Linked DNA regions of Homo sapiens: all the other regions are linked to region 2. Evidence: fine-mapped expression QTL. A gene starts in region 2. Each other region holds a variant in brackets. All regions are shown on one strand. Distances are from middle to middle. Region 1 overlaps ARHGEF18 (Rho/Rac guanine nucleotide exchange factor 18). Region 2 holds the start of ARHGEF18 (Rho/Rac guanine nucleotide exchange factor 18). Region 3 overlaps ARHGEF18 (Rho/Rac guanine nucleotide exchange factor 18). Region 4 overlaps ARHGEF18 (Rho/Rac guanine nucleotide exchange factor 18). Region 5 overlaps PNPLA6 (patatin like domain 6, lysophospholipase). Region 6 has its middle 15 kb from the start of INSR. Region 7 overlaps ARHGEF18 (Rho/Rac guanine nucleotide exchange factor 18).

Region 1 (4,064 bases), 120 kb after region 2:
GGTTGGGGACGGGCAATGACCAGCAGCTCCTTCAGGCTGCACCTGGCTCTGTCCAGAACAGGAGAGGTCGAGGGTCTCCTGTGCACGACCCTCGGGGGCTCTCCAGAGGCCGCACAGCAGGAACCTCACATTGGATGTATCTGCTGTTGTCCCCTCAGGCCCAGCCCCCAAGCCACCCTCCCAGCTTCAACGGGGAAGGGCTGGAGGGCCCTCGTGTGAGCATGCTGCCATCCGGCGTGGGGCCAGAGTACGCAGAGCGCCCCGAGGTGGCTCGCCGGGACAGCGCCCCCACCGAGAACCGGCTGGCCAAGAGCGATGTGCCCATCCAGCTGCTCAGCGCCACCAACCAGTTCCAGAGGCAGGCGGCCGTGCAGCAGCAGATCCCCACCAAGCTGGCGGCCTCCACCAAGGGTGGCAAGGACAAGGGCGGCAAGAGCAGGGGCTCTCAGCGCTGGGAGAGCTCAGGTGAGCCGGCCCCACCCCTTCGCCTGGGCCTGGAAGGTGCAACTGGTCAGGCTCTAGCGGCTCGCTGGGAGCCAGGAAATTCGGGACACCTGTGCCATCCTCTGGAGAGGAAAACCAGAAGGCACAGCTGGCATCGTGGCTGAGGCCACCCCACACAGGGCCGTGTTTGGTCTCCAGGCCCAAAACTGAGATGATCCACCCTGCATCTTCTCCACCTCAACCCTCAAAACAGTGGGATGGGGACCAGGAGCCTTAGAAAGGGACACGGGCAAGAAGGCAGAGATCCCTGGCCACGTGGGATCAGCACAGCCGGGACAGGGACAGGTGCAGGCGCCTCTGCTCATTGTCCCAGTTCCACAGAGCCGTTCCACAGAGTGGGACACGGAGCCCAGAGCAGCCCCAGTGTTTCCACGGAGGATGTCCAGGAGCTCCTCTGGGGGACACCTCCCTGGGGGACAACCAGGGATGTTCTGGGATGTTCTCTGAAGATTAAGGGTGTGTCCCGTGGTCACTAGGGCCTGTGCTATTTCCACAGGAGGCTCAGCCTCCTCTCCAGATGCCGGGTGACTCTGCAGGTCCTTCCGCAGGGAGGTTGGGGCCGTTCTCCCTGAATCTGGGGCTTAGCATCTGAGCAGCTCAGGTCACGGGATCCAGGCCGCCCGTGGGAAGTGTCAGGTGGGGGTGGCCAGGCCCCTCTGCTCTCGGAGGCTGCCCTGGCGGGTGGGGACAGCTGGCCAGCCTGGAGCTGGCCCAAATACCTTCTCTCTTCCAGCGTCCTTCGACCTGAAGCAGCAGCTGCTGCTCAACAAGCTCATGGGGAAAGATGAGAGCACCTCACGGAACCGCCGCTCGCTGAGCCCTATCCTGCCCGGCAGACACAGTCCTGCGCCCCCACCAGGTGAGCCCCCACCCCCTGACATGAGCCCAGTCCCAGGGCAGCGGGGCTGCGGCACCACCCGGCGACTGCTCAGTCTGAACCCTCTCTCTGTTCCAGACCCTGGCTTCCCCGCCCCGAGCCCACCGCCAGCTGACAGCCCCTCCGAGGGCTTCTCTCTCAAGGCCGGGGGCACAGCCCTCCTGCCCGGGCCCCCAGCTCCCTCGCCACTGCCGGCCACACCACTCAGCGCCAAGGAGGACGCCAGCAAAGAAGACGTCATCTTCTTCTAAAAGGGCCGTGACTCAAGGTGCAAG[G/C]CCCCTCCCTGCCCTGCCCACCCTTCCTGCTCTCTGGGGACCCCCATGGGGTCACCATGCCCACCCAGCTGTCCCCTCCTCTTCCCTAGCAAACCACTGATGACCGCCTGGCAGGGGCCAGCCTGTCGGTGCTCTGGGCCTTGCAGCTGTTTCTGTAGGGTTAGCGGTGGTGCCGGGGTCACTTTCTGAATCTCTTTTTTTTTTTTTCAAAAAGGAAAGTTTTTAATGGAAAGTTGAGCCAGAACTAAACCAGGGAGCTGTCTGAAATCATAGCACCCCATCCGGGTGGCGGGGAGATCAACTCCGAGCTGTTTTTCCGAGGCAGTGAGGAACGGTGCCGGCTCTGCACGGAGCTGAGGACAGGACAGACCTTGCTTTGAGAAGGAGCTGCCGGCCGGGGCCACGCTCCACAGCCGCCGCGCGACAGTGGAGCCAAGGGTTAGGGCACCAGGAGGGGCCAGGTGGCGTCGGCAGCATCTGTCCCCAGAATCAGGCAGAATCCACTTCCCAAACAGAGCCCCACGCAGGTTCACCATGAACCTCAGGGTCAGGGAATGAGCCAGGCACGGGGGCATGGGCAGAGAGGGCCACGGGGCAGGGCCCACTGAGGGAACATCAGTGGCCCTCCAGTCAGGTTCTGTGGGTTTGGAAGCCCATCGTGAAAGGGGCTGACCTTTGCCCCTTTTTACTTGGCATTGGTTTTGAAACCAGCTGTTTCCCAAACTCTGCTTCCCAAGGGCAACCGTTGCTGTTCACACGCTCAGCCTGTCTGGGGGAGCGGGCCTCTAGCTTCAGCCAGGGCGGGTACACACCCTGGGCACAGGGTCCTCAGCCCCCGGGAAATGAGCTCCCAGGGCTGGCGTCCCACCTTCCAGGTGGGGGCTGGCACATCACAGACTGTCGAGAGCGCCATGTCCCAGGGCATGCAGAGGATGCACCTAGAGACGTTGCAGCAAGTGGACAAGTGGCCGCTGTGCGGGCCCCTCGCTTGTAGTGAGCTGTTGCAGCTTACGGTCCGTTCCCTGGAGGGGTGGAGGAAGGAGGTGTTGGGCAGCATCAAAGGTGCTGGGACATCCCAGGGTGGTGAGATCCATCCACGATCCAGCTCCGGTGGAGAAAGGGCCCATGTCAAGCCTTGTTCTGCACCCCAAGCATTGGTGGTAGGACTGGGTCCTGGCTGATCGTCCTTGTTCCCAGTGGGGTACATGTGAGCCCCTGCCAGGGCCAAGTCCTTCTCCCGAACCCAGGGTCCTGGGAACTGCAGATCCCGGGGGGATTCAGCCCTTCTCCCACTGTGCTGGCAGAGGCACTCCTGTGACGCTGAATACAGTGAACAGGGACATTCCCGCCACTCGGGGACAGATGGGCACAAGGGAGGGGAAACTCCATCAGGAAGTGCTCCCCTGGGCAGAGGCGCCCACTGGGTGCTGTGGGCTCAGGAGGGGGCGGGGCAGGAGCTGGTGCCAACCGGGAACCAGAGCCCCACAGCCATACAGCCCATTGGTGACAAGGTCCTGAGAACACAGTGGCCAGGTGTCCCCAGGCTCCTGGCCCCTCCGACGACCTCAACTCTGCCCAGCCCGGTCCCTGGCCATCAGCGACGCTGTCCGCCCCCCGTCAGATCCCATGTGTGCCATGTTTATCATCAGTGTTTTGTATTTTTGTACTGAGTATCGGAGCACTTTACAGAAGCTGACTGTACATTCCTGTTCTGTTGTGAAGAGAACATTCCCAGACCCTGGCACCCTCCTGAGCCGGCGTGTGCCGGTCCAGCCCTCCGAGATGCCACAATTCCTTGGATGGGGGAGAAGTTCAAGGAATTTCTGCTCGGCCACGCGGTGGGAACCCCGCGTCCCCGCCATGTGGCAGAGGGGTCTCAGTCGTGCTAGGCATCGGGCGGCAGCGCCGACAGCCCTTCCCTCGCCAGTGCCCCTCGGCCACTCCTGGGTTGGAGCCCGATTTTATTTGTAAAGTTGACAGTCGAGCAAATGTTCCTATTTTCGTGGGATCTGCACACGTCTTTGTCAGTTGTGGTCATGATCTTAGTCACCTGCTAATTATTTTTACAATGATTACAACATTTCCTCACTGCGGGATATTTCTGACCCGCTTTAGAACTTAAGACCTGATTCTAGCAATAAACGTGTCCGAGATGAGCGGTGACTGGCGTGCACGTTCTTGGAGGTTTTATTTGAGGATTTTCTTCTGCCCAAACGTTGCTGCAGGAGTAGCAGGTTCTGTTGGGGGCTCCCCATGGCTCCTGCCCCTCAGCTCGCTCACCTGCCCTCCGTGTCCTGCTTAACGCTCTGAAGACCCCTTCAGGTCCAGTCCCCAGGAGTTGTTGGGGGTTTTGTTTTTGTTTTTGTTTCTGTTTTTTTGGTTTGTTTGTTTTTTTGAGACAGAGTCTT
Region 2 (4,064 bases):
CACTTGAACCCAGGAGGCAGAGGTTGCAGTGAGCTGAGATTGCACCACTGCACTCCAGCCCGGGCAACAGAGCAAGACTCCATCTCAAAAAAAAAAAAAAAAAAAAAAAAAAAAAAAAAAGGAAAAGGAAAAAAAGCATAGATTATGGAAAATGCAGCAAAAATAATGTTAAAGTGATTAATTTAAATGTGGTAAAATAGGCATAACGTAAAATTTACCATTTTAACTTTCTTTAAAAAAAATGGGATTTCACTCTGTCACCCAGGCTGGAGTACGGTGGCACAATTATAGGTCACTGCAGCTTTGAACACCTGGGCTCAAGTGAGCCTCCCCGCCTCAGCCTCCGGAGCGGCTGGGACTGCAGGCAGGCACCACCAAATGTGGCGAAGTTTTAAATTTTTTGTAGAGTACTCACTCCAGTGACAGGCTGAAGCCAGCCCAAGAGCCAAGTTTAGTGGAGCATCATGGCTCATGCCTGTAATCCCAGCACTTTGGGAGGCCAAGGCGGGTGGACTGCTTGAGCCCAGGAGTTTGAGACCAGCCTGGGAAACATAATAAAATCCCTGTCTCTACAAAAAAAAAAAATTAACTTAGGCTGGGCGCCATGTCTCGTGCCTCTAATCCCAGCACTTTGGGAGGCCAAGGTGGGAGGATTGCTTGAGCCCAGGAGTTCGAGACCAGCCTGGGCAATATGGTGAGACCCTGTCTGTACTAAAAATACAAACCAAAAAAAAATAGCCAGGCGTGGTGATGTGTGCCTGTGGTCCCAGCTACTCAGGAGGCGGAGGTGGGAGGATCACTTGAGCCCAGGGGATGGAGGTTGCAATGAACCAAAATCACCCCCACTGCACTCCAGCCTGGATGACAGAGTGAGAGCCTGTCTCAAAAGAAAAATTATATATAAAAAATTATATATAAATTATATATAAGTCTATATATAATCCATATATAATTATATATAAAGTATATATAAATTATACATAAATTATCTGTAAACAAAAAACTTAGCCAGGCATGGTGGCATGTGCCTGTAATCCCAACTACTCAGGAGGCTGAAGCAGAAGGATCACTTGAGCCCAAGAGATTGAGGCTGCAGTGAGCTATGATTTTTCCACTGCACTCCAGACTGGATGACAGAATGAGACCCTATCTCTAAAAATAAAATAAACAGTTTTTTGTTGTTGTTGTTGTTGTTTTCTAAAAAAAGCCAAATCTGAGCATTTCCTATCAACTCCACACTCGGTGACATCACACTGGTAGGTGAAATCGGCCATGCTGGGGGTATTTACACCAGGAGAATTGGCAATGGCTACAAATCGGAGAGGTGGTTGTTAAACGTTACCAGCACACCATGTTGTTCCGCCAGCTTCCAGGTACCCATGTAACAATGTAGCCACGTGTGTTTCTGTCTCTCTGTGTGTACCCACCATGCTGGTGTGTGTCTGGGTGCCTGAGTCTCTACGGATACACATGACCTGCACGTCCCTATATGTTGCTGTCTATACACCCATGTGCCTGGGTGAGGCCCCCACACCCTGTTCCTCTTCAGCAGTTGGTTCCACAGGAAGCTGCTGGGGTGGGGGTTGAGGACGCTGGGCCTCCCTCCAGCTCCCCACCCCTCCTCCTCAAGACACCTGCATGCGCAGGGCTGAGGGGTGGGAGCAGGGCTCTCTGCCTCCAGAACCCCCATCCTCTGGGCTCTTTTTAGGCCCCTAGATTGGCCTGCAGCTGGGAGCAGAGTGGCAAGCATGCAGGCAGGCAGTTGAGAAAGAGGAAGTCGAGGTGCTATTGGGTCATTCTGTGGTTATCCCAGGCTCTACCCAGCCAGCGGTTCCCTTGGGCCAGCTCGAAACGCTGGCCGTAGGTCATGGGAGCTGCAGGAGCTGTTAGCCAGGCTAGGTGCCTGCAGGTTGAAGAACTGAGCTCTATCTGGTAAGTACTTATCCTGGGAAGTGGAGAGAGATGGACCCATCGGGACAGAGTGGCAGTGGGGTCTGGGAAGTCTAGGGGGACAGCGAGCAGACATACATCACTGTTTCTCTCCCCCTTGCAGTCAACTTGCTTCCTGAGTGGGTGGGGGAAGCTGTTTGACCCTTGCGTTCATTGTGCAGAGATCTGTGGTCATAAGAGGTCACCCCAGGGGACGGGGATCCTTGAGGGGCTGCTAGGTAAGAAAGGAGGGTGGAGGCCGGGCGCGGTGGCTCACACCTGTAATCCTAGCACTTTGGGAGGCTGAGGAGGGCGGATCACTTGAGGTCAAGAGTTGGAGACCAGCCCGGCCAACATGGTGAAACCCCGTCTCTACTAAAAATACAAAAATTAGCCAGGCGTGGTGGCGGGCAGCTGTAATCTCAGCTACTCGGGAGGCTGAGGCAGGAGAATGGCTTGAACCCGGGAGGTAGAGGTTGAAGTGAGCCTCTCAGTCTCAAAACAAAGAAAAGAAAAAGAAAAGCAAAGAAAGGACGATAGAGCTCCTTGTAGCCAAGGCCCTCCTGCGTGGAGACAGGAGACAGAGAATGAATGGGGGAGCTGGGGCAAAGGCTCAGGTGCCCTTTGCATCTTAAACTGCAGATTCCGGGCCCCCCAAGAACCTCCCTGTTGCAGATTCTGAATCCACTGTCAAAACAAACTCACACTTAAGGCTGATGGCTGACAACCAGCCCTGAGAAGGGTCTTGTCCTGATCTGAAATCATCCAGAGAGCACATCCCTCCACCCAGGCAGCCTTCCTCCAGGTGAGGGTTCTCCCCCTTGGGAGACATCCCCTGTCTCCTCTCGTGGCCCCTTCTTAGGGGGACCTCCTGCACCACCGCCTGCCTGGGACTGGGAGGGGTGGGGGAGGAAGGCTGCGGTTTCTGCTGGGCACACCCAGTCTGTTGTTTCCTGCCAGCCCCCAATGCTGCAGGGCAGGCTTCAGGCACCCTGAGGTCTAGGAAGGTGGCCCCAGAACCAGGAGGGAGTGAATTGAGCTAGAGTGGACAGCTGGGGCCAGAGAGGATGGAGCTAGGAAGTGACGCTGGGGGCTGATGCTCCAAGGCCAGGTCACCTGCAGTTCTGAGAAAAGAACATGACAACCAAAGGAGGTCAGGAAAGGGTTGCCCTCATAATCAGCCACATTTCAACTCCCTTGCTGTGACTGGGAGTCACTCTGGGAGGGCTGCTTGGTAGAGGCAGCCTTTTCATTATGCCTTGAAGAACCAGTAGATGGCAACTGCAAACACGTCGGTGCTTCTGGTCTGGGCTGTCTCCCATGCCTCCCTGGGCATCCCCTAGCCCATGACAAAGGGATGGGCATATGTTGATGCTCGATACTGTTGTAGATGACATGGTGACTGTGTTGGACAGCTGGGCGTTCAAATCCCAGTTCCCTGGCCTCTATGTGGCCTTGGGCAAATGACTTAACTGCTCTGAGCTTTCGTTTGCTCATCTGTTAAAAGGCTGTTGAGTTTTTTGGGGTGGGTGTGTGTGTGTGTGTGTGTGTGTGTGTGTGTGTGTGTGTGTGTGTGTGTGTTGGAGATAGAATCTTGCTCTATCGCCCAGGCTGGAGTACATTGGTGCAATCTCAGCTCACTGCAACCTCCGCCTCTCGGGTTTAAGCAATTCTCCTGCCTCAGCCTCCCAAGTAGCTGGGATTACAGGCACACGCCTCCATGCCCAGCTAATTTTTGTATTTTTAGTAGAGACAGGGTTTCACCATATTGGTTAGGCTGGTCTTGAACTCCTGACCTCAGGTGATCTGCCTGCCTTGGCCTCCCAAAGTGCTGGGATTACAGGCATGAACCACCTCGCTCAGCCTTTATGAAGTTTGGTCTGTGAGATCTTAGTGCAGTGTCTGGCACGTAATAGATCAGAAAACATTGTCAGCCTCACCTATGCCTTCATACTGACCTTGTCCCCAGGCCTTCCTTCCTGAGCAGTCCCACCATCTTCTGAAATGTTCTGGGTCATACCCATGGTGGATCTCAATCTGTAAGCAAGTCTGCTAGAGTGGACTTCTTTTGTTTGTTTGTTTGTTTGTTTGTTTGTTTGTTTTGAGATGGAGTCTTGTTCTATTGCCCAGGCTGG
Region 3 (4,064 bases), 29 kb after region 2:
GGTGTGGCCCGTGCCTCAGTTGTCTCTGGGTCCTAGGATTCCAGCCTAGGCCTGAAGGGATTTCCCTGGGTAAGCATCTGGGGCAGGCCATGCATGGCCATGACTCCAACCCAAGGGCTGGAGACAAGGGGATGGGGGATGTCTTATCTTGCAGTTTCAGCCAGGCTTGGAGGATCTTTGCCTGGAGTGTAGCCCTGCAGCCGGAAGGCAGCTGTGTCTGTGGTTGGGGTATGCAGCTACAGCTAAGGAGAATTTGTGTCTGACCTGAGATCCCAGCTCACACCTGAGGAATGCATGCTTGGAGCTGTGGCTGGTGGCTGAGACATCTTTGGCTGTGATCACAAAGGACCCTGGGGGAAATTCCTGGCCATTGTTGGAAGCTGTGGCTCTGATACCTGGGGCTCCAGCTCAGAGCTGGAGGCTCCTCCGCCAGGACTACAGCCCTGTGGCTGGGGAGGGGGTGGCTGAACCCATGTCTTATGGCTGGGGGGAGTGGCTGGAGGCTGAGGCTTGGATGAGTGTGTCACCCCATTTCTGTGGAGGTGGCCCTGGCTGTGGGTTGGGCCCCTCAATCCAGGGAACCTGCCTGCAGTCCAGGCTGCCTTCCCAGCTTAGTGAGATGTTTAATCCCCTGCAGGAATGTGACAGCCCCAAGAAAAGAGGGAGGTCAAGGTCCGTTCCTGTGTCCTTCTATGAGATCCGCTCTCCGGAAATCTCTCCGGGTTTGGAAGTGCCCACTCCACCTGTTCAAGGTAGCCAGCCTGGGAGTTTCCTTCATTCAAACCAAGTCAGGGAAAGAGGAGCCTGGCCAACATGGTGAAACCCTGTTGGGGTTTCATCCTTCATCCTGGAGGGTCCCCTTGGTGGGGCTCCAGATGGGCCCCAGGGAAGGGAAGGGAGCTGGCTTAGGGTCCCCTGGGCAGGGACTGAGCAGAACGCTGGGGGAAGCCAGAGAGGGGAAGGGACCTCCAGCATCTGTCCCTCCTCCTCTCCCTGCAGCTCTTGAGCCAGTGTGAGATTGCCCCATTGCAATGAGCTTGTCCCCAAGATTCTCTCTTCTCTCTATGACTCTTTTTTTTTTTTGAGATAGAGTCTTGCTCTGTCGCCCAGGCTGCAGTGCAGTGGTGCAATCTCAGTTCACTGCAACCTCCGCCTCCCGGGTTCATGCCCTTCTCCGGCCTCAGCCTCCCAAGTAGCTGGGACTACAAGCACCCGCTACCATGCCCGGCTAATTTTTGTATTTTTAGTAGACACAGGGTTTCGCCATGTTGGCCAGGCTGGTCTCAAAGTCCTGGCCTCTAGTGATCGGCCCGCCTCAACCTCCCAAAGTTCTGAGATTACAGGCATGAACCACCGCGCCCAGCATTCTGACTATTTCTTTATCTCTTTCTTTATCTCTGAATTTTTATCCTGAGATCTTGCACCTCTCTGGCATCAGACAAACCTGGAGTCTAAACACATAACAAGTCTCTGAGCCTCTGTGGCTTCCTCTATTAGAACAGGTGCAGCAGCTCACACCTGGAATCCCAGCACCTTGGGAGGCTGAGGCAGGTGAATAACTTGAGCCCAGGAGTTTGAGGCCAGCCTGGGCAACATGGCGAAACCTTGTCTCTACTAAAAATACAAAAAACAATTAGCCAGGCATGACGGTGTGCACCTGTAGTCCCAGCTACTTTGGAGGCTGAGATGGGAGGATCACTTAAACCCAGGAGGTCAAGGCTGCAGTGAGTTCTGATGGCAGGACTGCGCTCCGCTCTGGGTGACAGAGTGAAACCGTCTCAAAAAAAAAAAAAAAAAGGCCTGGTGCGGTGGCTCACGCCTGTAATCCTAGCACTTTGGGAGGCCGAGGCAGGTGGATCACCTGAGGTCCAGAGTTCGAGACCACCCTGGCCAACATGGTGAAACCCCGTCTCTACTAAAAATATAAAAACGCAAGAATTAGTCGGGCATGGTGGTGTGCGCCTGTAATCCCAGCTACTCGGGAGGCTGAGACAGGAGACTTGCTTGAACCCAGGAGGCGGAGGTTGCAGTGAGCTGAGATTGAGCCATTGCACTCCAGCCAGGGTGACAGAGCGAGACTGTGTCTAAGGAAAAAAAGGGGAGGGGGGACAATAAGCGTATCTCCTTCAGGCCACTTGGAGAGTCTGCTGATCTCACACACGTAAAGCACTTAGTAGGTTGTAAGCACTCACGAGACACTGGGGACACCTGCGTTTGTCCCTGGCTCTCTGTCCTCTTCTCGTCTCTGTTGCCTGAGAGTACAGGCCCTGTCTGCATGGCCTCCAGTTCTGCAGGGGCCCAGGGTGGCATCCGGGAGGGCTCTGCTGGGCTGGTCCTGTCCCAGAGCTCCTGACAACTGTGCTTCCTGGGATG[G/A]GGGGCTTCTTCCAGGCCTGGAACCTCCAGTGCTGGAGTGCATGGAAAAAGACCATGTGGAACCAGATCACGTGTGAGTTTCTGCCTCGTGGTGGGGGAGGGACCCCCAGGGAACAGGCCACAAAGTCAGGGCTGCGGGAGGAGGGCTGCCAGGGTGCAGTGTTGCTGGCCATAAGTGACCAGGGCCAGACACCATCCCACTAGTCCCCCCATAACCTCATCTTTCTGCCACCATCCTTCTCCCGGTGGGAGGGACCCAGGCCCCTCAGAAAGGTTCTCAATGTAGCCTTGGGAGACAATTGTGGCTTTTTTTTTTTTTTTTTTTTTTTTTTGAGATAGGGTCTCACTCTGTCACCCAGGCTGGAGTACAGTGGCGTGATCTCAGCTCACTGCAGCCTCTGCCCCCTGGGTTCAAGTGATTCTCCTGCCTCAGCCTCCAGAGTAACTGGGACTACAGGCGCCCGCCACCACGCCCGGCTAATTTTTGTATTTCTAGTACAGACGGGGTTTCACCATGTTGGCCAGGCTGGTCTCGAACCCCTGACCTCAGGTGATCCGCCCACCTTGGCCTCCCAAAGTACTGGGATTACAGGCGTGAGCCACTGTGCCCGGCTGACTGTGGCTTTGAGTAGGGTCTGCATCAGGACCTGAGGCCTGCTTGGGCAACCCCAGCTTATCTAGGGGAGAGTGTCTGTAACCTGGAGCTACCATGGGCTGTTCTAATCCCACCTCCACCCCCACAGGCTGATTGTCCAGCAGGTGCTTCAAGAACTTCGACAGTACCATGGGTAAGTGGGAATCGGGACAGGCTTGAGGGGAGCAAAGTGGGAGACAAAAGCAGGAAGCATGCAGGGGTGTGCACAGGTGTAGGAGACAGGGGTAGAGAAGACTGGGTGAGGGCTGGGTACAGTGGCTCACGCCTGTAATCCCAGCACTTTGGGAGGCTGAGGCAGGCAGATCACCTGAGGTCAGGAGTTCGAGACCAGCCTGGCCAACATGGCGAAACCTCGTCTCTACTCAAAATACAAAAATTAGCCAGGCGTGGTGGCACGCACCTGTAATCCCAGCTACTCAGGAGGCTGAGGCAGGAGAATTGATTGAACCCAGGAGTTGGAGGTTGCAGTGAGCTGAGACTGCACCATTGTACTCCAGCCTGGGCAACACAGTGAAACTCTGTCTCAAAAAAATAGAAAAAAGACAAGGCTGGGTTCAAGGGAAGAAAAATGGGGCAGAAGAGGAGGGAGGAGGATAGAAGACAAGAGTTGGAGAGGAGCAGGCTGCCACTGGCATAGGGGTTCCTTGGAGCAAACAGGTGAAGGTGCCTCCTGCCTAAGACACTGCCATCTGTTACAAAATCTTCCTGTAGCTGGATGTGGTGGCTCATACCACTGTAATCCCAACACTTTGGGAGGCCAAGGTGAGAGGATCATTTGGAGGCCACGAGTTTGAGACCAGCTTGGGAAAGATAGTGAGACCCTGTCTCTACAAAAAACATTTAAAAATTTGCTGGGCGAGGTGGCTCATGCCTATGATCCCAGCAATTTGGGAGGCTGAGGTGGGAGGATTGTTTGAGCCCAGGAGTTTGAGACCAGCCTGGGCAACAGAGTGAGACTCTGTCTGTATAATTTTTTTTTTTTGATTAGCTGGGCGTGGTGGCACATACCTGTAGTCCCCAGCTACTCTGGGGGGTG
Region 4 (4,064 bases), 110 kb after region 2:
CCAGGCCGCAAGAGTCCTCCTACCTTGGCTTCCCTAAGTACTGGGATCGCAGGCCTGAGCCACCACAGCTAACCTGATTTTTATAACAAGGGGGAAAATAATCAGAGGACAAGGCCATGCCCTCCCCTACCTCCCAGGAATGCAGGACACAAGGGGGCAGCCTACCTCAGGGCAGGGCCAGCGGGGTTCCTCATCCTTAGGCCAGTCCCCGGGGCTCAGATGATTCCAGGGAAGGCCGACCCGGCTGACTGCCACCTCCACCATCACTCTGCAGAGCGGTTGAGCATGAAAGACCAGCTGATCGCACAGAGCCTCCTAGAGAAACAGCAGATCTACCTGGAGATGGCCGAGATGGGCGGCCTCGAAGACCTGCCCCAGCCCCGAGGCCTATTCCGTGGAGGGGACCCATCCGAGACCCTGCAGGGGGAGCTAATTCTCAAGTCGGCCATGAGCGAGAGTAAGTTGGCTGCCCACACCTCAAGGGTGCAGTCTTGCCGGGGTGGGCTCCTCAGGGAACCCCAGGCCAGGCTCACGGCTCATTGTGGCCGACACGGCACCCTGTCCAGGACAGGCTTCTATGTGGGGGGGGCCCAGGAGCAGCACTGACCGCCCCCCGGTGCCTGTGAGAGCCAGAAGGGCCTTAGACATAATCTGGGCCAAGCCGCTCCTTGCAGACATAAAGCACTTTCTCCCCGTTCAACAACCGCTCTGATGCTCCCTGCATGCAGAGGCTCTAAGCCGGGCCGTGGGGAGGATCTGAAGTTGACTAAGACTGGTTCCCTACCTACCAGAGGTTCCTCTTCTTCCTGGGAGGTGGGTCCTGGTGATATCCCCAGAAAAACACACGCACACTCCCTCAGTGGGTCCCCACGCACAGCTCTAACACAGCCGCCAGGCCCCTGGGCTGGCCGCTTGAGCAGGCAGTCAGCGCCCAGTCTGCTCTTTCTTTTTTTCTTTTCTTTTTTTTTTTTTTTTTTGAGATGGAGTCTCGCTTTGTCACCCAGGCTGGAGTGCAGTGGCGTGATCTCGGCTCACTGCAACCTCCACCTCCTGGGTTTAAGTAATTCTGCCTCAGCCTCCTGGGTAGCTGGGATTACAGGCACCCACCACCACGCCCAGCTAATTTTTGTATTTTTCGTAGAGATGGGGTTTCACCATGTTGGCCAGGCTGGTCTCGAACTCCTGACCTCAGATGATCCACCCTCCTCTGCCTCCCAAGGTGCTGGGATTATAGGCGTGAGCCACCGCGCCCTGCCTCAATCTGCTCTTTCAACAGTGAGGGAAGCCGACTCAGCCCCTGCCTTCCAGAGCCTTTCCGCAGAATAAGACGGCAGAGACGGGGGTCAGTCTTTCTCCCTCCAGGCCCACTGACATCCTTCCACCCGGCTCCAGTGGCCATTGTTCTTGGCCCCCTGGGGACACTCTCATATCCCGCACCTTGGCCTGGAATGTTCTTGTCCCCACCTCTGTGCCTGGCCACAGCCTGTTGGTCCTAGAGGGCTTTCTGTAGACAGCCCTTCCCCACAAAGTCACTCTCCCATATGGCCATTGTCACACAATCAGTGTATGGTCATTGTCATATAACACACCAAGTGTTTCCTGCTGGCCCTGGGCAGGGCCACATCCAGCATTCGCCAGCCCCTGGCCCAGGGCGGCCTGGTGGAAGGAGCTGCAGGAGCCTGTACCCGCCCTCCCCATGGCTGCCCCACAGCCCTGTCCTCTCACTTAGACGCAGATTGGCCTGTCCTGGTGGCCATACCTGAAGTAAGGGTGTGCGCAGGGACAGTGGGGCTGAAA[T/C]CCCACGGCACACAGAAGGGGGCAGGCGATCACCACCCCAGTGAGTCCCTCCGTCCACCCGGGTCTCGCTGCCCCAGCGCTCCGTATTCCCCCAGCACACTTCCGCAGGGCGACCCGTGCCTCCTGTCCCCTTCCTTCCACAGTCGAGGGCATCCAGAGCCTGATCTGCAGGCAGCTGGGCAGCGCCAACGGCCAGGCGGAAGACGGAGGCAGCTCCACAGGCCCGCCCAGGAGGGCTGAGACCTTCGCGGGCTACGACTGCACAAACAGCCCCACCAAGAGTAAGAGCGGGGCCGTCTCCCCTCCTGCCTCCAGGGCCGCCCCTCAGGATGCACATTAACTTGTATGGGGTTTCCTAGAACTTTCTTTTTTGTTGTTGTTGAGACAGAGTCTTGCTCTGTCACCCAGGCTGGAGTGCAGTGGCGCAATCTCAGCTCTCTGCAACCTCTGCCTCCTGGGTTCAAGTGATTCTCCCGCCTCAGCCTACCAAGTAGCTGGGACTATAAGCACACGCCACCATGCCCGGCTACTTTTTGTATTTTTAGTAGAAATGGGGTTTCACCATGTTGGCCAGGCTGGTCTCGAACTCCTGACTTCAGGTGATCCGCCCGCCTCAGCCTCCCAAAGTGCTGAGATTGCAGGTGTGAGCCACCGCACCCAGCCGATTTTCTGGAACCTTCTGAAACCCTCCAGACATCGTTGGTTGTGTTGTGACAGCAGCACCCAGACCAGCCTGCCCCTCTCCAGCAGGCGTCTGTGCTGCAGACGCCACCATTCGGGCCTAGCCTGGGTTTCCTACCTGGGCAGGGGCTGGGGGTGGACTGGGAAGCTTCCCCCTCCCCACGGGATGGCAGCATCCTCATGCCCCTGGCTTGGGGTTCTCAGATGGCAGTTTCAAGAAGAAAGTCAGCAGCACTGACCCCAGGCCCCGAGACTGGCGAGGCCCCCCAAACAGCCCGGACTTGAAGCTCAGTGACAGTGACATTCCTGGGAGCTCTGAGGAATCGCCGCAGGTGGTACGTGGATATCCATTTGCTCGGTACAGTCTGAGTCGTCATAAGGATTCATGTGTGTGAGCAGCTTCTGCTGGGGTTGTCCAGTTTTAGTCTTATTAGCATCGACAAGCATTGTTTGTTTTGTGGTGAATAACAGTATCTCAGCCCAGATTAATGCACTGGCAGGTGATTTCTTCCTGCAGCCTCCTGGGAAAAGCAAAGAGGTCCCCAAGAGGAAGGCTGGGGAGGGGACAGGCTCAGGGCACTCACCATGGCTTCATCAACAGGCGAGGAACCCCCTACAGGGACCACCAGCTTTCAGCCGGGGCAGGTGTGGTGGTGCCTACCAGATGCCAGATGTCCCCGGCTATTCCTTTGCCTTTGAATCAGAAGGCCAGGTGCCTACTCGGCCCTGCCCAGGTCAGGGGGTCAGAGGCCAAGGCCAGTTGCCTCTGATCAGTTCTGAGGCTTGGACTTGCCCCTGTGGCCAGAGCTGGCACGCAGGCCTCATAGCCAAGCCCACTCTACCTCCCAGGAGGCCCCAGCCCCTCGTTTTCCAAACACCCAGATTTGTACAAGTCAGCTGACCAGCAGGGCCTGTGTTCCCAGTCATGACCCGGTCCTGGGTCCTTCCTGTTATCCACACTAAGGGATGTATTTTCAATAATAAGCAGGGGCCGGGTGCAGTGCCTCACACCCATAATCCCAGTGTTTTGGGAGACCGAGGTGGGAGGATCACTTTTTTTTTTTTTTTTTGGAGACAAGGTCTCACTCTGTCACCCAGGCTTGAGGGCAGTGGCGTGATCACAGCTCACACAGCCTCTAACTCCTAGGCTCAAGCAATCCTCCCACCTCAGCCTCCCAAGTAGCTGAAACTACAGGTGCGCGCCCCCACACCTGACTAATTTTTTAAATGTTTGGTAGATACAGGGTCTCACTATGTTGCCCAGGCTGGTTTCCAACTCCTGGGCTCAAGCAATCCTCCTGCCTGGGCCTCCCAAAGTGTTGGGATTATAGGCAAGGCCGCCATACCTGGCCTTGGGAGGATCACTTGAGGCCATGAGTTTGAGACCAGCCTGGGCAACATAGCAAGACCACATGTCGACAAAATATTTTTAAAATAGCTGATCCTTTGGCTGGGTGCGGTGGCTCATGCCTGTAATCCCAGCACTTCAGGAGGCCGACTCGGGTGATCACTTGAGTCCAGGGTTTGAGACCAGCCTGGCCAACATGGTGAAACCCTGTCTCTACTAAAAATATAAAAATTAGCTG
Region 5 (4,064 bases), 190 kb after region 2:
AGGAAGCCCCGTCTCAGCCGCCAGCCCCTTTTTCAGTTCTGCATAGAGTCAACCTGACCTTGTCCAGCCCCACAGGGACTCCATAGCGGGGTACCCAGGTCTGACTCCTATCTGGTACCGAGGAAGCTGTGGCCTCGTCCCCAAGGGCCCATTGGAATTGCTTTAACTAGTTAATCAGTCGCCAGCATCTCCTTATCTCCCAACCTGCTAATCCTCCTAGTGGCTCTGAGGGGCAGGAGCCTGAACATGTGTCTCCCCCAGGGGACCCTGTGAAGCCCACATCCCTGGAAACCCCCTCGGCCCCTCTGCTGAGCCGCTGCGTCTCCATGCCAGGGGACATCTCAGGTTTGGAGCACTGGGTCTGCGGGGAGGGCCATGGAGCTTCCAGGTTTGAATCCAGGTCCACCGCCTGCCTGTCTTGATTGTTTTAATCTGCGAAATGGGAACACTGCCAGTACTTCCCCAGGCACTGTTTTGTAGATATTCATTGAGATAGTGCTTCTCCCACCTGTTAAGAGGGATTCAGAGGGAGAGTGCAGGCGTTGATTAGTCATGTCTGCTACAGCAGTGGCCCATGGCACATTGGTATCCATTGGTCTCAGACTGCAACTGTGGTTACTCTCATCTTTTTCTTTTCTTTTGAGACCTGTCTCCCAGGCTAGAGTGCAGTGGTGCTGTCATAGCTCACTGCAGCCTCGAACTCCTATGCTCAAGTGATCCTCCAGCCCCAGCCTCCCAAATAGCTGGAACTACAGGCCTGCACCACTACACCTGGCTCATTTTTTAAAAATCTTACTCTCATCTTTATGGTTTTTGTTGCCCCCCTGCCTGCCTGCAGGCTTGCAGGGTGGCCCCCGCTCCGACTTCGACATGGCCTATGAGCGTGGCCGGATCTCCGTGTCCCTGCAGGAAGAGGCCTCCGGGGGGTCCCTGGCAGCCCCCGCTCGGGTAAGGCTTGGGACCCTGCCCGGTGGTGGAGCCCGCAGGGGAAGGTGGCTGGGAGGGAGCATCAGGAGGTCACAAGCCTGCCCCACTCAGACCCCCACTCAGGAGCCTCGTGAGCAGCCGGCAGGCGCCTGTGAATACAGCTACTGTGAGGATGAGTCGGCCACTGGTGGCTGCCCTTTCGGGCCCTACCAGGGCCGCCAGACCAGCAGCATCTTCGAGGCAGCAAAGCAGGAGCTGGCCAAGCTGATGCGGATTGAGGTGGGCAGCCGAGGGGAGCTGGGCACAGGGCGCAAGGGAGGCCTGGCTGCGCCCATCTCAACCCCCCTACCTCCCCAGGACCCCTCCCTCCTGAACAGCAGAGTCTTGCTGCACCACGCCAAAGCTGGCACCATCATTGCCCGCCAGGGAGACCAGGTGAGGCTGACCCCTGACCTGTAACCATGCCACCTGAGATCATTCCCTATGACTTCTGTGACCTCTGATCCCTGCCCTTTGACTGTAAGACCAGCACCTTCTCCCATAGAAGCAGACCTCTCTCATCCTATCATTTCCAACCTCTAACCCTTGGGTCCTGTGACCCCCACCCCCTAACCCCACCCTATGTCCTCTGGACCTGTCAACCCTTCACCTGTGACCCCTGAACCTTTTGCCCTAGGACTCCAACTCCTAGATCTCTCCTGCCTGCCCTGGCTCTTCCTGTAATTCTGTTTTCTGAACTTCTGATCCTGCAGTATTCACTAACATGTCTGCTTCTCATGCTGACCGCTGCCAGGATAGGGGCTCAATAAATGGCTACAAATCGCCATCTGGCCTCGGAAGGCCATGAACCAGCCCTGGGTCGGGGTTTCAGGGCCTTGTGGC[G/A]GCACCCAGGATGTGTAGGAAAATGTATCCTACCATTCTGTCCACTGTCCATATGGGGAAACTGAGGCCCATCAAGGGTTAGTGACCCGACTACCAGCTGAAAGTCAGGAAGCCTCAGGGTAGGAGGAGGAGGAGGAAGAAGAAGAGGAAAGTTGAAACCCACACTCTGTCCCCAGAGTGTGGCAGATGATCTAGAAAGTTCTCTGCTTCCTCATCAGTGGAATGAGGTAATAAAGAAGAGATGCCTAGTTCGCAGAACCCCAGTAAGACTTCTTTTTTTTCTTTTTTTTTTTTTTTGAGACGGAGTCTCGCTCTGTCACCCAGGCTGGAGTGCTGCAGTGGCGTGACGGTGGCTCACTGCAAGCTCCGCCTCCCGGGTTCACGCCATTCTCCTGCCTCAGCCTCCCGAGTAGCTGGGACTACAGGCGCCTGCCACCATGCCCGGCTAATTTTTTGTATTTTTACTAGAGAGGGGGTTTCACTGTGTTAGCCAGGGTGGTCTCGATCTCCTGACCTCGTGATCCGCCCGCCTAGGCCTTCCAAAGTGCTGGGATTACAGGCGTGAGCCACTGCGCCCGGCCTTTTTTTTTTTGTTTTGAGACAGAGTCTTGCTGTTGTCACCCAGGCTGGAGTGCAGTGGCACAATCTCAGCTCACTGCAACCTCCGCCTCCTGGGTTCAAGCAATTCTCCTGCCTCAGCCTCCCGAGTAGCTGGGATTACAGGGTTGTGCCACCACGCCTGGCTACTTTTTATATTTTTAGTAGAGATGGGGTTTTGCCATGTTGGCCAGCCTTGTCTCAAACTCCTGACCTCAGGTGATCCGCCTGCCTCGGCCTCCCAAAGAGCTGGGATTACAGGCATGAACCACTGTGCCCAGCCTACTGAGACATTTTTGATTGTTAGGATTTCACAGGGTGCTGTTCCTGACACCTGATGGGTAGAGATCAGGGATGCTCAAATGTACAGAGCAGCAGGCCGGAACCATACAGTCCATTATCCACAGTGTGGGGTTTGCAAGAGTGACAAGTGGTCAGGGAGGGTGTTTAGCAGCAGCTTATAGGGAGCGGGGGCTTGAGGTGACAGTGAGCTGTCATAGGCACTGGGACCCCAGCTCTGCCCCAGGCTTGGGGGAGAGAAGCCTGGGGCAGGGTTGGGGTGGGGTGGGAGCTGTGGTCCCACTGTTAGCCGGCTGGAGTGTTGCTGTGTCACTTGACCCAGTGACTCTGCTGTCCCCTTGAACCACCCATGGCAGGGATGGGCTCTTTTCTGGAGAGGAAGTCAAGGCTTTTGCCAGCTGTTCTTAGAATAGCTGAGGAAGTAAGGTTACCCTGTGGCTTCTTTGGGGGCCCCTGGGCCCTGCTTATCTGGGAGACTGCTGGCCACAACCCAGCCCTGGCCTGTCAGTGTACCACGCTGGTCTGCAGCCCCTCAGAGCTTCTCTGCGTTGGCAGGACTTTTGTTAGGGACCCTGTGCTCTCCTGTGCTTCTCCTTGAAACTTTTTTTTTTTTTCGGAGACGGAGTCTTGCTCTGTCGCCCAGGCTGGAGCGCAGCGGTGCGATCTTGGCTCACTGCAACCTCTGCCTCCCGGATTCAAGTGATTCTCCCACCTCAGCCTCCCTCGAAGCTGGGACTACAGTCACGTGCCACCACGCCTGGCTAATTTTTGTAGTTGCACTAGAGATGGGGTTTCACCATGTCGGCCAGGCTGGTCTCAAACTCCTGGCCTCAAGTGATCCACTCGCCTCAGCCTCCCAAAGTGCTGGGATTACAGGCGTGATCCTCGGCACCTGGCCACAGTCTGGAAATTCTGTCTTAGAAGGTTCCAGCATGTGTTTATATCTCCTGGGACTGTGCCTCACCCAGGGGTCCCTGCAGTGTTTTGGCAGGTGGAGCTTCACTGGGTACCAGACAGGTTGGTGTGGTGGATAAAGAAGGAATCTCTCCATTTCTGGGCGGTTTCAGTTCCTTATTTATAAAGGGATGGAACAGGAAGGTTTCTAGCTGGTCAGGCTACCCAAAGAAGAAAGAAACGTGTTTACCCAGCATTTGCCCCATCTCGAACTGTGTGCTGCTGGCTGGACAAGAGGCAGGAAAATGGCTGGGCACGGTGGCTCACGCCTGTAATCCCAGCACCTTGGGAGGCCGAGGTGAGAGGATCACTTGAGGTCAGGAGTTCGAGACCATCCTGGCCAACATGGTGAAACCCCATTTCTACTAAAAATTCAAAAATTAGTCAGGCACGATGGCGGGCGC
Region 6 (4,064 bases), 39 kb before region 2:
TGGTTTATTGTATGTCAATTACACTTTAATAAAGTTGTTTTTTAAGCAATAAAAGTTGCATTTTACAAGTTTCAACTGGCGATTTTTTTGTTAGTTTGTTTGAGACAGGGTCTGGTTCTGTTGCCCAGCCTGGAGTGCAGTGGTGCAATCATAGCTCACAGCAGCCTTGACCGCTTGGGTTCAAGCAATCCTCCCACCTCAGCCTTCCGAGTAGCTGGGATTGCAGGTGCTCGTCACCACACCCGGCTAATTATTTTATTTCTTGTAGAGACAAGGTTTTGCCATGTTATGTTGCCCAGGCTGGTCTTGAACTCCTGGGCTCAATAAATCCATCCACCTCAGCCTCCTAAAGTGCTGGGGTTACAGGTGTGAGCCACTTTCCCCGGCCTCCTAGACTGACGATCTTTTGATGGTGTTTGCTCTTCCCCACACTCTGAAGTTTAAGGACACAATCAATGAGACCAGTCTCTACAGCAGAACACGTTGGTGCTACCTGCTATTCTGTTGTGGAGTTGGTGGTTGGGAATTTCCTATTGAGTAGCTCTCATTCAAGGGGTTATAATTCCGTAAAAGCTGCCCCCATCCTATCTGATGTAAAAACCTTCAGAGTTGAAACCATCCATCACTAGTTACAAAGTAGCTCAACAAGAATCCAAGAGGCAGGCCGGATGTGCTGGCTCAGGCCTGTAATCCCAGCACTTTGGGAGGCCAAGGCAGGCGGATCAGGAGGTCAGGAGATCAAGACCATCCTGGCTAACACAGTGAAACCCCGTCTCTACTGAAAATACAAAAAAAGTAGCCAGGCGTGGTGGCATGTGCCTTGGGAGGCTGAGGCAGGAGAATCGCTTGAACCCGGGAGGCAGAGGCTGCAGTGAACCGAGATCGTGCCACTGCACTCCAGCCTGGGTGACAGAGCGAGACTCCATCTCAAAAAAAAAAAAAAAATCGAAGAGGCAGTAAACATCCCGAGCAAAGGAGACCACGACGAGGTAAGAGATTGTAACTCTGCACCAGACATTTCACAGGACTGAATTAAGCGTCACGGATTTGTGGTGAAAAGTGAGCATAACAAATTTCATCCAGCCAATGAACCTCTCCAGACAGGAATGCAACCAGCTTTTAAAGGGACAGCCGCAAGCAATATGAAGGTGTTTCCAGCTATTAAGGATGCACCTGGCCAGCATTATTCTAAGTGAAGTAACTCAGGAATGGAAAGGCGAATATCCTATGTTCTCATTGATAAGTGGGAGCTAAGTTAGGAGGATGCAAAGGCATAAGAGTGATATAATGGCCAGGCGCGGTGGCTCATGCCTATAATCCCAACACTTTGGGAGGCCGAGGTGGGCGGATCACGAGATCATGAGTTCGAGACCAGCCTGGCCAACATGGTGAAACCCCGTCTCTACTAAAAATACAAAAATTAGCCAGGCGTGGTGCTGCACACCTGTAATCCCAGCCACCAGAGAGGCTGAAGCAGGAGAATCGCTTGAAACCAGAGGGCGGAGGTTGCAGTGAGCCGAGACCGCACCACTGCACTCCAGCCTGGGCAAGAAGAGCAAAACTCTGTCTT[TAAA/T]AAAAAAAAAAAAAAAAAAAGTGATATAATGGACTTTGGGGACTTGGGCAGGGAAAATTGGGGGGAGAAGGATAGAAGACTACATATTAGGTACAGTGTACACTGCTTGGGTGACAGGTGCACCAAAAGCTCAGAAATTGCCACTAAAAAGCTTATCCATGTAACCAAAAACCACCTGCACCCTCAAAACTACTGAAATAAAAATAAAAATTTAAGAAATAAATAAATATACCTTCTTCCTAGGAAAATAAATAAATAATGCACCAGCCAGGCTCAGTGGCTCACGCCTATAATCCCGACACTTTGAGAGGCTGAGGCAGGTGGATCACCTGAGGTCAGGTGTTCAAGACCAGCCTGGCCAATGTGGTGAAACCCCGTCTCTACTAAAAATACAGCAGTTAGCCAGGCATGGTGGTGCACGCCTGTAATCCCAGCTAGTCCAGAGGCTGAGGCAGGAGAATCACTTGAACCTGGGAGGCAGAGGTTGCAGTGAGCTGAGCTCACGCCATTGCACTCCAGCCTGGGTGACAGAGCGAGACTCTGTCTCAATAATAATAATGATAATAATAATAATAATAATAATGCACGTATCCAGGTGCAGTGACTCACACCTGTAATCCACCACTTTGGAAAGCCAAGGTGAGAGTATCTCTAGAGGCCAGGAGTTCAAGACCCACTTGGGCAACATAGCAAGACCCCATCTCTTAAAGATTTCAAATTGGCCAGTCATGATGGTATATCCCTATAGTCCCAGCATTTTGGAAGGCTGAGGTAAGAGGATGACTTGAGCCCAGGAGGTCGAGGCTGCAGTGAGCAATGATCATACCACTGCACTCCAGCCTGGGTGACAGAGTGAGACCCTGTCTCTAAAAAAATTAATAAATAAATAAAATAAGGAGTCAGAGAGAGTTTTGACAGAAGAGAATAAGGTCATGTAAAGATAGTTGCAGAGACTGGAGTGATTTAGCCACAAACAAAAGAATGCCAATAGCCACCAGAAGTGAGAAGAAGCAAGAAATGTGTGCGTGTCTGTGTGTATGTGTGTGTGTGTGTGTGTGTGTATTTTCTTTTTTTGTTTGAGACAGACTTTCACTTTAGTCACCCAGGCTGGAGTGCAATGGCGTGACCTCGGCTCACTGCAACCTCCGCCTCCTGGGTTCAAGCGATTCTCCTGACTCAGCCTCCTGAGTAGCTGGGATTACAGGCGCACACCACAACACCTGGCTACTTTTATTTTTGGGAGACGGGATTTCACCATGTTGGTCAGGCTAGTCTCGAACTCCTGACCTCAGATGATCCATCCACCTTGGCCTCTCAAAGCCATGAGGCACCGCACCCAGCTGTATGTGTGTATTTTTTAATTGATGTGAAATTCCCATAAAATAAGATCGTGGATCTTAAAGTGAATAACTTAGTGGTATTTTGTACATTTACAATGTTGTACAACCACCACCTCTATCAAGTTCCTGAACATTTTCATCACCTTCAAAGGGAAACCTCACATATATTAAGTAGCTGTTCCCCATTCCACCCCCTCCGTGACAACTAGTAATTTACTTTCTGTCTCTGTGAATTTCCCTATGCCAGATTTTTTTTTTTTTTTTTGAGATGGAGTTTCACTCTTATTGCCCAGGCTGGAGTGCAGGGGTATGATCTCGGTTCACTGCAACCTCCGCCTCTCGAGTTCAAGTGATTCTCCTGCCTCAGCCTCCCAACTAGCTTGGATTACAGGCATGTGCCACCACGCCTGGCTAAGTTTTGTATTTTTAGTAGAGACGGGGTTTCATCATGTTGGCCAGGCTGGTCTCGAACTCCTGACTTCAAGTGATCTGCCCGCCTCGGACTCCCCGAGTGCTGGCATTACAGGTGTGAGCCACCGCAACTGGCCAGAGTTTCCTTCCTATTTATTTATTTATTTTATTTTTGAGATGGAGTTTTGCTTTTGTTGCCCAGGCTGGAGTACAGTGACGTGGTCTCGGCTCACTGCAACCTCCGCCTCCCGAATTCAAGTGATTCTTCTGCCTCAGCCTCCCAAGTAGCTGGGATTACAAGTGCCCGCCACCATGCCCAGCTAATTTTTGTATTTTGAGTAGAGACAGGGTTTCACCACATTGGCCAGGCTGGTCTCGAACTCCTGACCTCAAGTGATCCACCTGCCTCGGCCTTCCAAGTGCTGGGATTACAGGCATGAGCCACCGCGCCTGGCCGAATGTCCTTCCTTTTTAAGGCTGAATCCTATCCCACCCTACGGAGGGACCACATTGTTTATCCATTCGTCTCTTGCTGGGCACTTGGGTGCCTTCTGTCTTTGGCTGTTATGAATCACACTGCTGTGGACATGGGTGTACAAGTGTCTCTTTGAGTCCCTGCTTTCAAATCTCGTGCGTGTATACCCAGAAGCAGAATTTCTAGGTCATATGGTAATTCTATGTTTAATTTCTTTTTTTTTCTTTTATTTTTTTTGAGACTGTGTCTCATTCTGTCGCCCAGG
Region 7 (4,064 bases), 68 kb after region 2:
AATAAATAAATAAAATAATACTAGTTTGAGCCAGTGATTATGATACAACTGTGTTCTCCCCTCCCCCAAAATAAAAACCACGCATGCCATTCAGCTATTCTGCTCCCAAGACCGCTTTCAACAAAGCTGGACCCAAGGACCTTAGTTCCATCCCTTATCCCATTGAATCTCCAGGCAGCTCCATTAAACCACCTCCCTAACCCTGCTCCTGGGCACTCCTGGGTTCTCCCGGGCTTCAGGTAGCACCTTAGGCCCAAATGTCCACCCCTTGCTTAGAGCGCCCTCCTGAGCGCAACACCCCGTGCCAGCGGCTGCCTGCTGCCGAGCCCGCCACTCTGCCCCCCACTTCATGGCCCCTGCACCGCCCCTCTCTGCCACTCTCCACCCTGCCCTCGAGGTCCCGGTCCCCCTGCGTCCACCAGCAACCCCTTCCAGTGTGCCCTGCTCCCCACGCTGCAGCCATCGTTTCGAGAAGCAGAGCTCATCCAATCCTCCACATAAACCTTTCCGTGGCTTCAGGTTCAATGACAAAGTGACTCTCCAAGGGCCCCCAAGGCCCATGGCAGAACCTCCTGGAATAAGACATTCCCTCCACCCTGCCCTTTCCTTTCTCTGACCGGTCCAGACCAGGTCCCTCCCAGACGTCCTCTCCCTCCCTCCCTGAAGCGCGTATTTGTTAAGCACCCACCCACCACATGACAGGCCTCGTGCCAGCCATGACCACAGAGACCCGCAGCTCCTGGAGTTTCCCTTCTAAATAAACAAAACTACAGTTGAGCCTTGGGATTTGCAGAGTCAGTGTTTACCCTTTTGAAGATATACCCAGGAGTAGAATTGCTGGATCGGATGGTAATTCTTTGTTTAATTTTCACCCGCTTGCTAAAATTTCTCTGTAACCGCAACATGAATCCATTCATATTGGTGCAGAGTGGAGAAAACTTGGAGTTCCCACACAGGTTCCCAGCTGAGGCTGAGCGAGGCGACACTCCACCTTCTCGTTCAGCCTCTCACACTGTAAACACATGCCCTGTTGAAGGTCTATGGAGTACCACGGTTTTCGCATTTGTGTGCTTCTTGTTGGTGATGTTAATGTTGAAAATGACCCCTAGCTGGGCGAGGAGGCTCATGCCTATAATCTCAGCACACTGGGAGGCCTAGGCAGGAGGATTAGTTGAGCCCAGGAGTTTGAGACCAGCCAGCCTGGGCAACATAGCAAGACCCTATCTCTAAAAAAAAAATTTTTTTTAATTAGCCAGGCATGGTGTCACACACCTGTGGTCTCAGCTACTTGGGAGGCTGAGGCAGGAGGATCCCTTGATTCCTTGAGCCCAGGAGTTCGAGGCTGCAGTGAGCTACGATCACGCCACTGCAGTCCAGCCTGGGCAGCAGAGACCTCATCTCTAAAATAACAATATAATAATAAATTTTTTAGAAAATAAAATGACCTTCAAACGTAGTGCTGCAGTGCCAGCAAGTGCCCCTGAGTGCAAGGAGGCTGTGATGTGCCTCACGGAGAAAATTCGTGTGTGTGTGTGTGTGTGTGTGTGTGTGTGTGTGTGTGTGTGTGTGTTTTGGGGTGGATGATATTTTATTTGGGTTTTTTTTTTTTTTTGAGACAGAGTCTTGCTCTGCTGCCAAGCCTGGAGTGCAGTGGCACGATCTTGGCTCACTGCAAACTCTGCCTCCCGGGTTCACACCATTCTCCTGCCTCAGCCTCCCGAGTAGCTGGGACTACAGGTGCCCGCCACCACGCCCAGCTAATTTTTTGTATTTTTAAGTGGAAACGGGGTTTCACTGTGTTAGCCAGGATGGTCTCGATCTCCTGACCTCATGATCCGCTCGCCTCAGCCTCCCAAAGTGTTGGGATTACAGGCGTGAGCCACCATGCCCGGCTGTT[TTTG/T]TTGTTGTTGTTGTTTTTTGAGATGGAGTCTCACACTGTTGCCCATTCTGGAGTGCAGTGGCACCATCTCGGCTCACTGCAGCCTTTGCCTCCCAGGTTCAAGCGATTCTCCTGCCTCAGCCTCCCAAGTAGCTGGGATTACAGGCACGCACCACCACACCTGCGTAATTTTTGTATTTGTGGTAGAGACAGGGTTTCACTATGTTGGTCAGGCTGGTCTCGAACTCCTGACCTCAAGTGATCCACCCGCCTCAGCCACCACCCAAAGTGCTGGGATTACAGGTGTGAACCACTACACCTGGCCTGGATGATATTTTAAACAAGGTGGCCTCTGGGGCTTCACTGAGAAGGTGGGCAGGTCAGACAAGATGGCTTACCACCTGTAATTCTAGCACTTTGGGAGGCAGAGGGAGGAGGACTGCTTGAGGCCAGGAGTTCAAGACCAGCCTGGGCAGCATAGCAAGACCCTGTCTCTATTTGAAAATTATACATTTAAAAATAAAAGTTGGCCCAGCACAGTGGCTCACACCTGTAATCCTAGCACTTTGGGAGACCAAGGCGGGCAGATCACTTGAAGTGAGGAGTTGGAGAGCAGCCTGGCCAACATGGCAAAACCCCATCTCTACTAAAAATACAAAAATCAGCCAGACGAGTGGCGCACGCCTGTAATCCCAGCTACTCGGGAGACTGAGGCATGACAATCACCTGAAACCAGGAGGCAGAAGTTATAGTGAGCTGAGATCGCACCATTGTACTCCAGCCTGCATGACAGAGCGAGACTCGGTCTCAATAAAAATAAAATGAAAAAGAAGATGGGGACAGGCAGAAGGAGCAGCAGCCACGGGGGCCCAGTGGGATGGTGACATGTTTGGAGGAGGCCGGGGTGGGTGGAGCCAGGTGGCCCAGGAGAGTGGGAGAGTGAAGGCTGGTGGTAGCTGGTGAGGAGATAGCCTGGGTGGGGCCAGAGGTCCTGGACTCTCTGTAAGAGACCAGATGGTACATACCTTGGGCTTTGTGGGCAGCATAAGGTCTCTGGTGCATATTTTTGCTCTACCAAAGGAGGTGCTGGATTTGGCCCTGGGGCCATAGTTTGCCGACCATTCTTGCAGGTCACAGTGAAGACGGGTTCCTGGGGAAGGTGGGGGCCATGGCAGGGCTTTGAGCAGAGGAGGGACATGCCTGACTTGGTTGTTAGTTGAATCATTCCAGCAGCTACGGAGGAAGTGAATGGTAGTACAAATAGTCAAGGAAAGTATTTGCTTTGTGTCAGACAGCATTCCAGAATGTTCTCTATCACAGCCAACCCCCAGAGAGGGCATTACTGGTTTTTTGTGTTTGTGGGGTTTTTTTGTTTTGTTTTGTTTTGTTTTAAGGCGGGATCTCACTGTCACCCCAGCTGGAGTGCAGTCGCACAATCACAGCTCACTGCAGCCTAGAACTCCTGGGCGCAAGCGATCCTCCTGCCTCAGCCCCCCAAGTAACTGGGAGCACAGGCGTGCACCATGCTTGACTAATTTTTTACTTTTGGTAGAAATGGGGTTTTGCAATGTTACCCAGACTGGTCTCAAACTCCTGGGCTCAAGCATTCCTCCCACTCTGTCAGTGACAGATGGCCACTCTGTCACCTTCTTGCCACCTCAGCCTCCCAAAGTGCTGGGATTACAGGTGTGAGCCACTGTGCCCAGCCAGCAGGCACTACGATTATCCCCATCCTACAGATGGGGGAAATGGAGGCAGGGTGCAGTTAGGTCCCTGGCTCTGGATCTCGGAGGTGGGGGTTTGAGCCCGGGCAGCGTGGCTGCGATGTCTGTTCCTAGCACACCTGCCCTCTCTGCCCCGGCCCATGTGGCTGATGGAGTTGTCGGTGTGGATTCAAGGGGGAGAGAGGGAGGAGAGGAGGTGAAGGTGGCACTCATTGACGGCTCTTTTGAGTTTCCACAAATACTTGTTTCCTGGAGAGTCTTTCCTTTCAGACATCTGCTAGTCCACCTGGCGCCTGTTCAGTAAGCACCAGGGAATGGAAGGGCCTCTCCCTTCATTTCTGCATTGCAGGTGTGTCTGCTCTCCAGCCCCCCAGCAGCCCCTCACCCCAGGTGCACCCGCACTCGGCCTCTGTACCCCAGATGTACCCACACTCGGCCTCTGTACCCCAGATGTACCCACA

The links. PIP is the estimated chance that this variant, and not a neighbour inherited with it, causes the effect.
Region 1: its variant is fine-mapped to the expression of ARHGEF18 in whole blood (TOPMed, PIP above 0.99).
Region 3: its variant is fine-mapped to the expression of ARHGEF18 in whole blood (TOPMed, PIP above 0.99).
Region 4: its variant is fine-mapped to the expression of ARHGEF18 in whole blood (INTERVAL, PIP above 0.99).
Region 5: its variant is fine-mapped to the expression of ARHGEF18 in whole blood (TOPMed, PIP above 0.99).
Region 6: its variant is fine-mapped to the expression of ARHGEF18 in whole blood (INTERVAL, PIP above 0.99).
Region 7: its variant is fine-mapped to the expression of ARHGEF18 in whole blood (INTERVAL, PIP above 0.99).

What each region holds. Positions count from the first base shown.
Region 1 is chr19:7,468,667-7,472,730 of GRCh38, forward strand. It overlaps ARHGEF18 (Rho/Rac guanine nucleotide exchange factor 18), which reads left to right. Exons shown (of 29, transcript NM_001367823.1): 27 at 159-465; 28 at 1,238-1,363; 29 at 1,460-3,812. The coding sequence ends at 1,632. Among named protein-coding and RNA genes, the nearest start is that of PEX11G, 18 kb to the right of the region's middle. The variant G/C (reference allele first, on the strand shown) is at 1,657.
Region 2 is chr19:7,347,310-7,351,373 of GRCh38, forward strand. It overlaps ARHGEF18 (Rho/Rac guanine nucleotide exchange factor 18), which reads left to right and starts at 1,628. Exons shown (of 29, transcript NM_001367823.1): 1 at 1,628-1,932.
Region 3 is chr19:7,376,006-7,380,069 of GRCh38, forward strand. It overlaps ARHGEF18 (Rho/Rac guanine nucleotide exchange factor 18), which reads left to right. Exons shown (of 29, transcript NM_001367823.1): 5 at 638-752; 6 at 2,389-2,446; 7 at 3,117-3,161. Among named protein-coding and RNA genes, the nearest start is that of ARHGEF18-AS1, 17 kb to the right of the region's middle. The variant G/A (reference allele first, on the strand shown) is at 2,374.
Region 4 is chr19:7,461,878-7,465,941 of GRCh38, forward strand. It overlaps ARHGEF18 (Rho/Rac guanine nucleotide exchange factor 18), which reads left to right. Exons shown (of 29, transcript NM_001367823.1): 21 at 275-457; 22 at 1,941-2,078; 23 at 2,683-2,813. Among named protein-coding and RNA genes, the nearest start is that of PEX11G, 25 kb to the right of the region's middle. The variant T/C (reference allele first, on the strand shown) is at 1,798.
Region 5 is chr19:7,541,723-7,545,786 of GRCh38, forward strand. PNPLA6 (patatin like domain 6, lysophospholipase) reads left to right here. Exons shown (of 32, transcript NM_001166114.2): 10 at 262-345; 11 at 839-948; 12 at 1,039-1,206; 13 at 1,285-1,362. Among named protein-coding and RNA genes, the nearest start is that of PNPLA6, 8.0 kb to the left of the region's middle. The variant G/A (reference allele first, on the strand shown) is at 1,810.
Region 6 is chr19:7,307,830-7,311,893 of GRCh38, forward strand. No RefSeq gene overlaps it. Among named protein-coding and RNA genes, the nearest start is that of INSR, 15 kb to the left of the region's middle. The variant TAAA/T (reference allele first, on the strand shown) is at 1,571.
Region 7 is chr19:7,415,009-7,419,072 of GRCh38, forward strand. All of the region lies in intron 10 of ARHGEF18 (Rho/Rac guanine nucleotide exchange factor 18), which reads left to right. Among named protein-coding and RNA genes, the nearest start is that of ARHGEF18-AS1, 22 kb to the left of the region's middle. The variant TTTG/T (reference allele first, on the strand shown) is at 1,898.